Linked DNA regions of Homo sapiens: region 2 is linked to region 1. The links come from fine-mapping of genetic effects on gene expression. Tissue or cell type: whole blood. Region 1 holds a variant in brackets; the other region holds the start of a gene. All regions are shown on one strand. Distances are between the middles of the regions.

Region 1 (8,185 bases):
GATTATACTCCACTGCTTCAAGGGAGTGTTGTCTCCCTGAGCAACCTGTGGAATGCTGCTGAGTGGTTATGCTCTTGGGGCATAAAGACATGAAAGCAATAAGGAGACTTTTCTCCCCAGAGGCTGCCCATGGCTTCCCATGGGTGTCTCACACAGGGGAGACCAACTCAACTGGCACCCCAGAAACACTTTCCCACATGTTCCCCTTTTTTGCCTCTATTGATTTTTTTTTATTAATAACTGCCATTGCTATTATGGCTCATTCATGGTGTCTGGTTTCTCTCCCAAGGCACCATCTGCATCTGTAGACTAAAAACAAGCAACATAAACAGACACAAACCAAAATAAAATTTGCAATTGTTGATCCACCTATGGTTTCAATCCACTTTAAAGGATTGGTATTAGAAAGGCCATCAGAGGCTCCAGCAAGAATATCAGCTCCAGGCAATAGGGTGAGATGAGCCTGAGATGCCTCAAAAACTTGTTTTTTCAGTTTAGCAATATCTAATGTTAAATTATCTTTTTTTCCTTGTAGGTGACGTCTAATCGTCTCTCACTGGTGTTCAATGGCATTATAAGAGCTAGGAGTAAAACAAAAATCGGAAGTATTCCAGTCACATTGTTTTTGAATTCTATGCTCCAAGCTCATAATCCAATCTCCCATCCAAATTACTGTTTGACAGAGATCATTAATTTGATTTGCCAATTTTTGACCTATTTGGCTTTGGGAATTCCAAAGCTTAGAAGAATTTTTCTGCCAACTATCCACAAAGCCCGCTGTTTGAATAGAAGAGTGCAAAGCAACACCAGCAGCAGCAGCAGTAGCTGTGACAGCTATAAGGCCCATGATCACAGCTATTAAAGTAAATATGAATCTCTTTGATCTATTAAGTATTCCTTTTAGTACTTCCGTGATAATATGTATGGAGGGAGAGGCCTCCCAAGGTCTATTGAGGGAAACAGTTATTCAAACTCCTTGGGCCCTAACCGGTAAAATGCTATTATCTTTATTAAAGGTAGAATTAATGCAGGTAAAAAGATGACAGTTGAGGCATGATATGGTTTGAGAGTCAGTTAGGATATTAATTTTTCCCACTGCCAACATAAAAGGAGGTTTAACAAAACTCTGCAATGGGAATGTCTGATTAGAGGTCATGGCTACGACAAATCAAAGTTTTTTTTACTAAGGGTCTTTGTTTTATATTCTCCTTTCCAAATCCGAATTGGGGTTTGAGCCATCATTAATTTCCACAATTCTAGATGTTCTGGACTTATAATTGGATCAATCATTTTTGGGCTTGAAAGAGCCATACCGTTCTCCTCCCACTTAATAGGTTAATTTGTTTTAATTCTTCTATATAATTTTGGTGCATTATCTGGGTAGTTGTTTGCAAAAGGAGTCTCTCTACCATCTTCGCACTGTCCAGTACAATTTACTGCAAAGCGTCCCATAGGGGCCCAATCAATGACGATTCCATAGGAATTACTTTGCAGTACAGCAGTGCTGTTTGCAATACAATCTTCCCAGGTTAGCACCTCTAGCTTTCCAGACCATTTAGTGGCCTTCCTAGGGCAGGGCTTCTTATTAGGTTTATATTTATTAATCTGGCGATGTGTCATAACATAGCCGTGCTCAAGGTATTTAATAGTGTCCAAAGATTGAAATGTTCTTCCACTGATTGCATGAATAGGGGCTTTTGATCCATTATTTGCAGGGACACAAGTCATCCAACTTTGTTTATCATAATTTAAACATCCTGCTGCCGGCCCCAGGCAGATGGAAGGAAAGTGATAACCAATGGAAACATTCATTAACATTCCTTCCTCCTCTGGATGAGTAGGGCCTCGGTTATCTATTGGTCCAGGCATCCAGATACTATCATTAACATGGGGTCTAACCATGTAACAGGCCTAATCAGTGGTGGGAATGGAATGTAGGCCCAGTAAGTGTAATTTTGATCTGCCTCAGCTATGGGGAGACTCACTGCAGGGAGATTACCACCATCATAGCTACCATTAGATTACTGGTGGTCAGCAGCTTGTTCAGAGACCTCAGGTTCTCTTCTGCAATGTGAGCTAGGCTCTTCACCTGCCCCCAGGTCAGTGGAGTTGCTTGGCGAGTTTTACTGGTTTCCATCTGCTCAACAGAGATGTTCATCTGAGCCATCTGATGAACTGGGGGTGCAGGGATGTTCCGAGGTCTTTTCCTCTTCCTTGGATTCTGGCTCATGGCACAGCTTAAGATGTCTTGTGGGCACCCAGACAGGAAGCTGATTCTCTTCTGGTGAGATACAAGAAAACCCTTGACCCCATGTAATGATTTTGCCCTTTTCCCAGGTTTTGGTTCTGATGTCCTTCCACCACACATGTTTTCCTTCATAAGCATTTATTTTTTGCCTTGTCAAATGCTGCTCTGCTGCCATTGTAACGTGATCTCTAGACAAATTCAGAAAATGTGAAGTGATAAGAGCCAATTGTAGCTGCATATAAGGAGTAGCGTATTCTCTGGTTTCCCCCTCTGTCTTTTGTTTTTGTAATTGAGATTTTAAGGTTCGATTAGCCTGTTCAACAGTGGCTTGACCTTGAGAATTATAGGGTATTCCAGTACTGTGCTCGATGTTCCACTGTTAAAGGAACGCCTGTAAAGATTTACTACAGTAGCCTGGGCCATTGTTTGTTTTAATCTTTTGTGGGATGCCCATGGCAGCGAAACAGGGAAGTAATGTCTTAATATGAGCAGCCGCCTCGCCTGTTTGGCAAGTTGCCCATACAAAATGAGAAAAGGTATCTATAGTAACATGGACGTATGAAAGTTTCCCGAACAAAGGTACATGGGTTAGGTCCTTTTGCAACAACATATTGGGGGTTAATCCCTGTGGGTTAACACCAGTCCTTTCACGTGGCAGTTGTACTACCTGGCACTGAGGGCAATGTTGCACAATGCCCTTTGCCTGTCTCCAAGTAATTTGTTATTTTTGTTTAAGTCCTGCTGCATTAACGTGTTAGGGAGTGAAAATCTTGGACATTAGTAAGCACAGTGGAAATTAATAAATCAGCTTGATCATTAGCCCTTACAAGGGGCCCAGGAAGATTAGTGTGTGCTCAAATGTGTGTAATATAGAAAGGAAAACGGTGATCATGCACTGCCTTTTGTAAAGAAGAAAACAGCTGATAGAGTTGTTCATCCACCAGATATTTAATGAGTGCAGTTTCTATGTGTTGAGTGGCTTGAACAACATAAGCTGAATCAAAGACAATATTTACAG[T/G]TTGCTTAAAGTTTTCGAACACACCTATAACTGCCTGTAATTCAGCCTTCTGTGCCGATTGAAAGTCAGTTTGAATAATTGTGTTTTTAGGTCGTACGTAAGCTGCTTTTCCATTACTAGAGCCATCTGTAAACACAGTCACTGCTCCTTCCAATGGAGCACTACGGGTAATTTTTGGAAGGACCCATGTTAGCTTTAAAAACTGAAAAATTTTGTTTTTTGGATAATGATTGTCAAGAACTCCAATGAAGCCAGCTAAATTTATTTGCCAATTGACCGAATTAACAAAGGCTTGCCAAATCTGATTTTATTCATTGGAATTATAATCTTATCTGGATCTGAGCCACAAAGTTTAACAACTCTAAGGCAAGCTTGCTCAATCAAGATTGCCATCTGATCCAAGTATACTGTGAGTGTTCTAACAGTATTGTGAGGCAGAAAAGACCATTCAACTAAGTCCTCACTCTGAGCTATAACCCCTGTAGGAGAATGGAGAGTAGGGAACACAATGAACTGTAATGGTAAACTTGACTCTATTCTATTAACCTGGGCCTGTTGTATTTTTTCTTCAATTATTTGTAATTCTTTGTCAGCCTCAGGAGTCAGTTATCATTTACTATTGAGAGCAGGGTCTCCTCTTAAAATAGAGAACAGATTAGACATAACATGGTAGGGATTCCCAAAGTAGGTCAAATTCAACTGATATCCCCTAATAATTTTTGAAAATCATTTAGTTTTCAGAGAGTCTTTTCGAATTTGAACCTTTTGGGGTTTAATTGCCCTTTCCTGAACCTGCATTTCCAAATATTGGAAAGGAGTGGCCGTTTGAATTTTATCTGGTGCTATGAGCAATCCAGCATTGGCTAGCACCTCCTGTAAATATGAATAACACTGGATAAGTTGGTCTCGATTTTCAGCCGCACACAATATGTCATCCATATAATGAATGACATATGAATCGGGAAACTGATCTCTCACAGGTTGAACATCCTTCCCCGCAAAAGTTTGACAAATAGTAGGACTATTCAACCTACCCTGCGGCAAGACTTTCCAATGATATCTGGCTGCTGGTTCCTTGTTGTTCATAGCAGGAATAGTAAAAGTAAATTTCTCAAAATTGGACTCTGCTAGAGGAATATTAAAAAAGCAATCCTTCAAATCTATAATTATTAATGGCCAGTCTCTAGGAATCATGGTGGGCGATGGAAGCCCTGGCTGCAGGGCCCCCATCAGCTGGATGACTGCATTGACCGCTCGTAAGTCGGTTAGCATGAACCATCTGCTGGATTTTTTCTTTATTACAAACACTAGCGAATTCCATGGAGGAAATGTGGGCTCAATGTTTCCTTTGTTTAATTGCTCTTTGACTAATTCCTGTAAGGCCCCCAATTTTTCCTGAGAAAGTGGCCCCTGCTCAACCCAAACAGGATTTTGGGTCTTCCATTTTAAGGGAATAGAACTTGGAGACTCAACAGTGACCAGCCCTAAAAATGGTAACCTAATCCTTTTCAGTCATTTTTTACAGTAACTTGTATGGGTTCAATAATGCCAGCCCCCTGTCTTCCTAGGCCTTTTCTGGGAACATAGCCCATGTTTGACATTATTTTTTGACTAGCTTGACCAAACTGGGGAGAAGGGATTGAAATTTCTGTGCCCCATTGCTGAAGCAGATCTCTCCCCCATAAGTTATCAAGAATGGGCATAATTAGAGGTTGTAGTGTGCCTTCCTGTTCTTCTGGACCAAGACATGGTAAGATAAAAGTACTTTGGAAAACTTCTGAAGCAATTCTGACCCCAACAAGACCTACTGGGGCCTTTTGTTTGGGCCAGTTTTTTGGCCATTGATAAAGAGCTATGATCGACACGTCTGCTTCTGTGTCCACCAGACCCTCAAATTGTTTTCCTTGAATAGTAACCATACAAATAGGTCTATTGTCAGAGACTTGATGTACCCAATAGGTAGCATTGCCTGCTGAATTTGTGTTCCAAATCCTCCTGTTCTTTTTTCTGAGCTTTCTCCTAACTTAACATATGGTAAAAGCAACAGTTGAGCTATTCTGTCACCTTGATTAGCACTCCAGGGAACAGTGGAGGAGATAACAATTTGAATTTCTCCCTGGCAATCAGAGTCCACTACTCCAGTATGTACTTGAATTCCCTTTAAGTTTAAGCTGGACCTTCCCAGTATAAGTCCCACCGTGCCATTTCACAATGGGCCATAAACTTCCACTGGGACCTTCCTAGGAGGCTCCCCAGGAAGGAGGGATATGGCTTCGGTACAGCATAAATCTACTGCCCCACTTTTAGCTGTGGAGGGGGACAATTCCTGTACATTCATACAGGGATAGACTGGGCTGAGGACACTCCGTTTGGAGTTGGGGACATCCCATCCTGAATTGGGAATGCCCCATTTTGAATCGGGGCCCAGGGCTGGCCCTTCTGTCCGTTTCCTGGCAAGTTCTGTCTGTCTGCTGTCATCAAACTTTGAATGACATTGATTAGCACAGTCTTTTCCTTTTTTACTTCTAGGAAAGGTACTTGGTTCCCTGCTTTTTCCTCCTGAGTTTTGCCTTTTTTGGCTCTTTGTACACTCTCTTTTTGTATGTCCTATCTGTCCACAATTATAGCAAGATCCAGGGCACACTCATATGTTTTTTGTTACCCTTAGTCCAGCCATTCCTTGAGCAAGGAGGCTGGCCTTATATAAGTGCCTGCCAATGCCATCACAGGCTTTAATGTATACTCTTAAAGTTTTTTCCTCATTTAGATCTGCCTTTCCCTTAATAGGTCTAATTGCTGCCTGACATTCTGTATTAACATTTTCATAAGCAAGTAGCTGGACGATCACTTTCCTGGCATGAGAATCCAAAATAGCCTTTTGAGCCACATCTTGCAAATGAATGATAAAATCTGGATAAGGCTCCCTTCGACCCTGTCAAACTGAGTTAAAAGAAGGATAAGTAGTACCAGGGTAGTGAATTTTTTCCCAGGCTCTTAGGCATATAGTTCTGAGCTGATCAACAGCCTCATCACCCATTACCATCTGTTGATTTAGAGTACCCCATGCCTGTCCACTTCCAAGCAATTGATCAGATGTGATATTAATGAAAGTTTGGGCTTGAGCATTTCTGCATGCCTGATTTATTGCTTCATCCATCCACCAGGTTTTAAATTGGAGAAATTGAGAGGGGGCAGGGTGGATCAGGCTAATGTCTCCCAATCCATAGGTATTAAATGCTGGTTATACGCCACAGATTGTAACAAGGAATGAACATAAGGAGAATTTGGCCCATATTGTCCAACTGCTTGCTTTAAGTCTTTTAATATTTTAAAAGGAAATGGCTCCCAGCACGCTTGAGCATGTTCTCCAGGCTCCTCAGCTGGCGAAATAATTACCAGAAACTGCCAAGCATCCAAATCCCCCATTTCTCATGCCTGGCAAATGGATGCCTGGATTATCCCTGCGCCATAATATGTATTTGGGCCGGTTCACAGCATTCCTCTACCATAATTAACAGGTGGACCAACCTGGATCATTCCCTCACTGTAATTGGCTGTTGGGCAAGACTGAAGCTTCCCTTTGCCATAGTTAATGGTGGGGCGTGCAACAATGGGAGTGGCAAGCTGCGTCTCAGGCTCTCGTTACAAAAATTCATAAGGCTGAGGCAGGGGTGGCCGTTCCGGACCTTCCCCTAAAGGCGCAGTAGGTGGCACTGTTTCTTCAGTAGGTGGAACTGTTTCTTTCATAAGTTTTTGGAGGTTAGCCCATGTAGCTTCCTGTTTCTCCCCCTTTTTTAAACTAGACTGTGATGGTTCACTTTGCTGATCATCAGACTCATGATTATTAAACTTTTGTATGTCATCCTGAAACTCCTCCTCCTCAGTGTAGAAGGGCTCCAGTGCTGTTTTAATTGCTGGCCACACAGACCAAGTGGAGAAGGAAATATCGTAACCCTCTTGTTTTGCTCCTTGTAAGTCTGATCCGACCTTGTCCCAATCTTTTACATTCATGGTTCCATATCCTGGGAACAAAGGAGAATACTTTTCTATGAGATGGAACAAAGATGTGAGATTTTGGGTACTCACAATTACCCCGCTGTGGCACAATAACTGCTGCACCAGGCTTAAGTAATTTGCAAACTTACTTTCAGCCTGACCCATATTTTCCTGAGGTTACCCTGGAATTCTCCGAGCACCCTACTTACCCGTAGAGCCTGAAGTGAAAACGTACTCGGGCAACCTTTGTCAGTCGTCCTCCACTTTCCACGCTCTGGCGTTTCTTCACTGGATTATTTGTAGAGATTATGGGGAGCCCCACGTTGGGTGCCAGATGTTGGGGAAACCAGCCCCACACCACCCAGTGGGTACCCCAAGTCTGACAGACACAAAGGAGTTAGAAAGAGACAGAATAAGCATTTAAAAGGCGGGTTCAGGGGACCAGAGCATCAGAGGCTTGCTCACGGCCCAGAGCTCTTGGGCTTCACGCAATTTATTGGCTTACAAGCTCTTTGTTCTTAGGGCAGATGGGAGGGGGAGGAAGGGATGAGGAACAGGATTAATCAGTGAAGGAGAACTCGTGAGTCATTCGATAAGATGTGTAGCAGTGGTGGTTTCTGTGAATTTCCTTGAGCAAAGATGTGTGTCTAAACTACTTAAGATCTTTAACTTACCAGGACTGAAACAGGTGGAAGTGGGTTTCAGGAGGAGCCAAGATGTTTGATTATACTCCATTGCTTCAAGGGAGTGTAATCTCCCTGACCAACCTGTGGAATGCCGCTGAGTGGTTATGCTCCCAGGGCATAAAGACATGAAGGCAATAAGGAGACTTTTCTCCTTAGAGGCTGCCCATGGCTTCCCATGGGTGTCTCACACAGAGGAGACCAACTCAACTGGCAACCCAGAAACTCTCTTTCCCACAG
Region 2 (8,185 bases), 21 kb after region 1:
TGGTATAAAACCCCAAAGAGACCAGGCACAGTGGCTTGTAATCCCAGAACCTTGGGAGGCTGAGGCGGGAGGATCGCTTGAGATCAGGAGTTCGAGACCAGCCTAGGCAACATAGGGAGACCACCCCCCGATCTCGACAAAAAAGAGAAATTAGGTGGGCATAGTGGTGAGTTCCTGTAGTCCCAGAGCCTTGGGAAGCTGAGGCAGGAGGATCGCTTGAGGCCAGGAGTTCGAGACCAGCCTAGGCAACATAGGGAGACCCCATCTTGACAAAAAAGAGAAACTAGGTGGGCATAGTGGTGAGTTCCTGTAGTCCCAGCTGCTCAGGAGGCTGAGGCTTAGGCAAGAGGATCGTTTGAGCCCAGCCTGGGTGACAAAGCAAGGCTCTATCTCTAAAAAAGAAAAATGGAAAAAATCCAAAGGATATCTAAGCAAATACTGAAAAGTATCTCCCTCCATATCTATCTCCAGCCACCCAGTTTCTCACTCTGGAAGCAACCAGTATTGCCAACTTATTGTCTACCTGCAGACAAGAAACGTATAATTACAGTTTATAGGGCATATATGTGTCATAAACCGAAATATGTAAAAATATGGTATAGTTTCTAGAAGAGGAGAAACAGAGGGGAGAAAACTCTATTAGAGAAAATGTTGAGTTGCTGATTTCCTTGTCCCACGCAATGGAGAGCGAGGAGACACTGTCCATGGAACTAGGTAACATTTAGAGCAGTGGTTCTCAGGGGGAGGCAGTTTTGCCTCCCAGGGGATATTTGCCCATTCCTGAAGACATTTTTGGTTGTCGTAGCTTGCAGATGGGGTGGGGTTGGGGTGTCCTCCTGGTATCTAATAGATAGAAGCCGGACATACTGCTAAACACCCTACAATGCACAGAGCAGTCCCCCCAGCTCCCCACAACAGGCAGTTGTCTGGCCCCAAATGACAGTACTGCCAAGGTTGAGAAATCCTGACTTATAGCTACAAAAGAATCAAAATCACTGCTTTGACTTCTTGCCAGGAGCTCGTTTGGCGCAGCTCCACAATGATTGGCAGGCAGAACCGCACGATCCAGGTGTTCCTAGAGTCAAATGCTGCCAGGTACTGCCCTTTCACCCCAGTAATGACAGCTCTTGGGGCAAACCAAACTGTCTTCTTGGAAACCACCACCCTCCTCCTCTCATTTCCTCTGATCATACAATTTATAACTCAGGTCTCTTCCACAGGAGAAAATTCCATTTCTCCATTGGAAAGCCACTGTTTTGCATTTAGTGCTAATACATCAAAGATTGGGGCTGGGTGCAGTGGCTCATGCCTGTAATCCCAACACCTTGGGAAGCCAAGGTGGGATGATCACTTGAGCCCAGTAGTTTGAGACAAGCCTGGGCAACGTAGAGAGACCCCATATCTATAAAAATTTAAAATGTTAGCCAAATGTGGTGGTACATACCTGTAGTCTCACCTCCTTGGGAGGCTGAGTGAGGCAGGAGGATTGCTTGAGCCCAACAGTCAGAGGCTGCAGTGAGCTATGATTGCACCACTGCATTCCAGCCTTGGTTGACAAAGCAAGAGCCTGTCTCAAAGGAAAAAAAAAAAAAAGAGGAACGGTAACTATAGACCCCAATACTTTCTGTGAATTATAGAACTAGGACATTCTTTTTTTCTTTTAAATGATACTCCCCCAAATGCAAATGCCATAGGAAACAGATTTTGTTTGTTCTGGTATTTGTAAAAATACAGAAATTTGATCCAGCCCTCAATTGTCTACCTCCTTCTTTATTTCTGTATGAATATAAAATCTCCTTCTCAGAGAAAACCCTTTGTGATGGATTAGCATCCCATCTGCTGGGGTTTATCCCTGGGAATGTGAGTCTTAGGTGGCTAGAAATAATCTTAGTCCAAACTTTCTCAAATGTTAACTGATGTAGCCCTTATCAACACTAGGAGGAGGGAGTGTATATAGTTCCCACTTTGTAGGTTAATGGGGAGGAAATTGAGGCTCAGAGGAGTTGAGACATTACAGTCTTAGAGTGCCAGAGTCAGCATTTGAATTCGAGTCAACTGTCTTGAAATGTGGGCTGGTTTTATACTGCCTGTCCTTTGTTTCCAGAAGGGACATGCCATTGGTGATCATAACTACAGAGTTAAACCTGTATGGTCCGCATGTTGCCAAAGGGGATGTATCTATAGAAAAATGTGGCCAGGCGGCCAGATGCAGTGGCTCATGCCTGTAATCCCAGCATTTTGGCAGGCCGAGACAGGTGGATTACCTGAGGTCAGGAGTTCAAGACCAGCCTGGCCAACATGGTGAAACCCCATCTCTACTAAAAATACAAAAATTAGCCAGGTGTAGTGGCAGACACCTGTAATCCCAGCTACTCGGGAGGCTGAGGCAGGAGAATCACTTGAACCTGGGAGGCGGAGGTTGCAGTGAGCCCAGATGGCGCCATTGCACTCCAGCCTGGGCGACAGAGCAAGACTCAGTCTTCAAAAAAAAAAAAAAAAAAAAGAAGAAAAGAAAAACGTGTCCAGGCCAGGTGCAGTGGCTTACGCCTGTAATCTCAGCAGTTTTGGAGACCGAGATGGGTGGATCACTTGAGCTCAGGAGTTCAAGACCAGCCTGGGCAACACGACAGAACCCCAGCTCTTCAAAAAATACAAAAATTAGTCAGGCATGATGGCTTGCACCTGTGGTCCCAGCTGCTTGGGAGGCTGAGGCAGGAGGATCCCTTGAGTCCAGGAGGCGGAGGTTGCAGTGAGCTGAGATTGTGGCACTGCACTCCAGCCGAGGTGACAGAGGGCAACGCTGTCTCAAAAAAAAAAAAAAAAAAAAAAGGAGCCAGTGCCCGGGGGTGTCTAGTGGAGCATCACGTTCCATTCTTTGTTGGATTAATGAATTCAGGTAGTCTCTTCCCACACCACCTCACACTCTAGGGTTAAAAAAAAAACACAAAACGAATCTATTTACTTCCTTATGGTGTCCAAGAAATAAAATAACCTCTAGAAAGGACTTTGATATTTTCATTGAGCTGATAACAAAAGAATATTAATGAGAGGGAGGAGTTAGGGCTTAGGAAGAAGGAAATGCACAACTTGGGACCTGAGTTAGGCCTTCATCGTCGCGGACTCAGTAGACAGAGGCCATAGGTGCAGCTGTGATGGTAGAGGTGGAAGACTGATTTGCATTTTCACCAGGTGAGACCTGGTTACTCATTGGTTGATGAGGAAAGAGATGATAGCCAGGGCGGCATAAAACGGCAATGAGCTCAGTAAACAACCCCCTTCCCGTGATCTTCGTGGCTTCCCGCCCAGACGTGTGACCAAGATAGCAAGGAGCAGTCTTTAAGGCGACACGGCAGAGAGGCAGAAAAAGATGGGCCTTACCGGTTAGTTAAGAAAAAAAGAGGACCTGTTGCCTGTCCCTCTAGCTTTGAACTACAAAGTGGAGGGGAAGTTTGTCTGGATTTTCCTGTAGAACTGAGGGCAGGTAAGTGAAAGTGCTTTGAAGGAGGGGTGGGAGGTCATGGGAATAATGCGGAATGCTTGGGAACGTGTCAGCGAAGGAGGACGGAAACTGAGGCTGTCGTATTGCTTATTGCCAGACGAGGGTACAGAATTGAGGCACAACAGATGTTTGTTAGAGGAAAGAATGACCAGGGGAAATGGGAGGCAAGAGAGTGTTGATTATGAGAACAAGCCCTAGGGTTATCTGCTTGAGTTGGAATCTGGGCTTCCCCAGGTCTAACTGTGGGATTCTGGGTCAGTTATTGTATGTTTCTGGCCTTGGTTTCCTTGTCTGTAGAATGGGTAGTATGCCAAAAGCTCCCACTTCCACAGGTGGATATCAGAGCTAATAAAATACGGTGCACGACAAACACGCAATAAATGTGACCTCTATGTCTGGGGGTGTCTCCTGGAGCATCATGTTCTAGAAGAATGCTTTGTTGGATGAGTGAATTCAGGTGGTCTCTCCCAATGGTATTTCATTTTCTGAGATTTAAAAAAAAATCTATTTACTTCTTTATGGTGTTCAAGAAACAATAACTTCTCATTTTTCTCATTCTTCTCATCCTTCTCATTTTTCTCATCCTTCTCTTCTTCCTCTGATAAGTGATTTTTGTGTTTTTTTTTTTTTTTTTCGAGACAATATCTCACTCTGTTGCCCAGGCTGGAGTACAGTGGTGAAATCATAGCTCACTGCAGCCTTGATCTCCTGGGCTCAAGCAATCCTCCTGCTTCAGCCTTCTGAGTAGCTGAGACTATAGGCACATGCCACCATGCCCGCCTACCTTTTATGATTTTTAGTAGAGACAAGGTCTGACTATATTGCCTAGGATGGTCTCAAACTCCTAAGCTCAAGCGATCCTTCTGCCTCAGCCTGCCAAAGTGCTGGCATTACAGGCATGAGCCACCATGCACTGCCAACAATGATGTTGTTGATGATGATGATCCAAGCCCAGCGTATGCAATCAGAGAGGTATGGGTTTGAATCCCATTCTGCCTCTGTTTAGCTGTGTGACCTTGAGTGAGTTACTTAACCTCTCTGGGTCTCAATGTAATCATAAAATGGGGATAATAATACCTCCCCATAAAGTTGTTTGAGCATTCAGTTGCTGATACATGTGAAGGGCATAGCCCTGTGCCTGGCATGCATGTCAGCACTCAATAAATAGTGCTGTCTTCATGCTTATTACTGTTGTTGTTATTATTATTAACTTATTATTATTGTTATTGTTTGACTAGATTCTTTCTACACTAGAGAGGGGAAAAGAAGCTCAGTGGAAATGAATGTGTTGGTTTTTTTTTTTTTTTTTTTTTTTTTTTTGAGACAGTGTCTTGCTCTGTCGCTCAGGCTGGAGTGCAGTGGTGCGATCTCGGCGCATTGCAAGCTCCGCCTCCCAGGTTCACGCCATTCTCCTGCCTCAGCCTCCGGAGTAGCTGGGACTACGGGCGCCTGCCACCATGCCCGGCTAATTTTTTGTATTTTTAGGAGAGACGGGGTTTCACCGTGTTAGCCAGGATGGTCTGAATCTCCTGACCTCGTGATCCATCCGCCTCGGCCTCCCAAAGTGCTGGGATTACAGGCGTGAGCCACCGCGCCGGGCCACTAATGTTAAAAGTAGGGTTTATTGTCATACTTTGCCAGAAAAGGTCCTGTCCCCAGAAGACAGGGTCAAGTTCAAGCTATAGAGTATCTTCATAAACACTTAATGAATAACGCAATGAATCATATTTGCCAAGATTTTTCGGGATGACGTGGCAGGAGGTGACGCTATTATTGCTCAGGTTATTTCTAGTCACCCAACGTTCATCATTCCCAGAGATAAATCACAGCAGCTAGAATGCTAATCATCAGTTATGGTCATTTCTGCGAAGGCATTCATAGGGAAAGGAATATTTATAGGGAGTGTAGTGGTGTGATCATAGCTCATTGCAGCCTTGAACTTCTGGGCTTGAGTGATCCTCCTGCCTTAGCCTCCTAAGTAGCTGGGACTACAGGCGTGCACCACCATTAATGATTAAAAATCAACTAATTTTAGGCCAGGTGTGGTGGGTCACGTCTGTAATCCCAGCACTTTGGGAGGCCAAGGAGGGCAGATCACGAGATTAGGAGATCAAGACCATCCTGGCCAACATGGTGAAACCCTGTCTCTACTAAAACACAAAAAAAAATTAGCCAGGCATGGTGGCACACACCTGTAGTCTCAGCTACTGGAGAGGCTGAAGCAAGGGAATCACTGGAACCCACGTGGCGGAGGTTGCAGTGAGCTGAGATCATGCCACTGCACTCCAGCCTGGCAACAGAGCAAGACTCCGTCTCAAAAAAAAAAATAAAAAAAATTAAAAATCAACTAATTTTAAAATTTTCTGTAGAGACAGAGTTTCACTCTGTCCCCCAGGCTGGAGTGCAGTGGCATGATCATAGTGCACTGCAGCCTCAACTCCCTTGTTTCAAGTCATCATCCAGGCTCAGCCTCCTGGGTAGCTGGGACTAACGGCTGCATGCCACTGTGCTCAGCTAATTTTTAAAATTTTTTGTAGAGCCAGGGTCTTGCTATGTCACCTAAGCTGGTCTCCAACTCCTGGTTTCAAGCAATCCTCCTGCCTCAGCCTCCCAAAGCCCCAGGATTACAGGATTGAGCCATCTCGCCTGTCTGAACATAGGTATAATTTAAAAGAAAAAAAGACAGTCCTGTGTTTAGAATTCACCAGAAGAATTGGAAGCCCATAGTTACAGTTCCCAGCCTTTGATGTGTTAGCACCCACATCCAAAGCAAAATAGTGGCTTTCCAAAGGAGAAATGGAATTTTATCCTGTGTCAGAGACTTGAGTTATAAATTACACGATCAGAGGAAAGGACTTAAAATGAGAGGAGGTGAGTGGAGATCTCCAAGAAAATGGTTTAGGTCACCCCAAGAATTGTCATTCCTGAGGTGAGATAACAGGACCTGGCAGTATGAGACTCATGGACACCTGGATCGCAAGGTTGTGTCTGTCAGTCAGTGTGGCACTGAGAAAGATCAGAGCTGGAGCCAAAAGCACAAAGCAGTAATTGTGATCCTGTCTGTTTTGAACATGTTGATTTTTTTTTCATCATGGGTTTTTTGCACTTATTTTTATTTTTAAAAGTATCATGTTAAAATATTATTTATTTTGATGATATGGTGTGTCCCCACCCAAATCTCATCTTGAATTATAGCTCCCATAATCCCCACATGTCATGAGAGGGACGCTGTGGGAGGTAATTGAGTCATAGGGGTGGGTTTTTCCCATGCTGTTCTCATGGGAACACGAGATCTGACGGTTTTATAAAGGGCAGTTCCCCTGCACACACGCTCTTGCCTGCCGCCATGTAAGATGTGCCTTTGCTCCTCCTTTGCCTTCTGCCATGATTGTGAGACCTCCCCAGCCATGTGGAACTGTGAGTCCATTAAACCTCTTTTTCTTTATAAATTACCTAGTCTCAGGTATGAAAATGGACGATACACTTGATTACTGGGATTTTTGGCCCCCTTTAAATTTGCACCTCAGCTCAGCACTTATCTTACTCCCTCACCCTAGTCCTGGCCCTGCTGCAAACAGCATTGAATCTAGAAACTTCCCAAGCTTGATGTCATACTTACCCAGCATGGGAGAAAAGGTAGCAGAATTCAAGAGGTGAATGTGGAACAAATCAGAGTTGAAAAAAGAAAATTTGAGCCAGGTGTGGTTGGCATACACCTATAGTCACAGCTACTCAGGAGGCTGAGGCAGGAGGATGGCTTGGGCCTAGGAGGTTGCATCACTGCACTCTGGCCTGGATAACAGAGTGAGACTCCATCTCTTAAAAAAGAGAGAGAGAGGGCCGGGCGCGGTGGCTCACGCCTGTAATCCCAGTACTTTGGAAGGCCGAGGTGGGCGGATCACGAGGTCAGGAGATCAAGACCATCCTGGCCAACATGGTGAAACCCCGTCTCTATTAAAAATACAAAAAAATTAGCTGGGCATGGTGGCACATGCCTGTAGTCCCAACTGCTCAGGAGGCTGAGGCAGGAGAATTGCTTGAACCTGGGAGGTGGAGGTTGCAGTGAGCCAAGATCACACCACTATACTCCAGCCCGGGCAACAGAGCTAGACTCCATTTCAAAAAAAAAAAAGAGAGAGAGAGAGAAGACAGAATTTGCTATGACTCAAAGATATTTAAAGGGGGGGAAAAGAGAGAGAGAAAGAATTTGCTTTTCTGCTTCCCTGAATGGGGTGAAAAGAGGGACATTTAGGATACTGTATTTCAAAGGAAACTCCAATGCCCTGCTTCCAAACCACTTTCCAGGTGTCTCCGTTTACTTAGGGACCTGGATTGCTCGAGAACCTCCATAATCATATGTTTGCATTTTTAAGTACTTACTTAATTTATCTTTTTTATTTGGAAATCACATTTTTTATTTTCAAAACATTGTAAGCAGCTGGGTATGGTGGCTCACGTCTGTTGTAGCCCAAGCACTTCGGGAGGCCAAGGTGGGAGGATCTCTTGAGCCCAGGCATTAGAAATCAGCCTGGGTGCAACAATGTCTCTACAAAAAAAATTTAAAAATAGGCCGGGCCCAGTGGCTCACCCCTGTCATCCCAGCACTTTGGGGGGCCGAGGTGGGTGGATCATGAGGTCAGGCCTGGCCAACATGGTGAAACCCCATCTCTAATAAAACTACAAAAA

Evidence for each region. PIP is the estimated chance that this variant, and not a neighbour inherited with it, causes the effect.
Region 2: it holds the start of TMC5, and the variant in region 1 is fine-mapped to the expression of TMC5 in whole blood (TOPMed, PIP 0.96).

The regions. Positions count from the first base shown.
Region 1 is chr16:19,393,969-19,402,153 of GRCh38, forward strand. No RefSeq gene overlaps it. Among named protein-coding and RNA genes, the nearest start is that of TMC5, 20 kb to the right of the region's middle. RefSeq lists an enhancer at 1-461. The variant T/G (reference allele first, on the strand shown) is at 3,267.
Region 2 is chr16:19,414,612-19,422,796 of GRCh38, forward strand. It overlaps TMC5 (transmembrane channel like 5), which reads left to right and starts at 3,272. Exons shown (of 22, transcript NM_001261841.2): 1 at 3,272-3,481.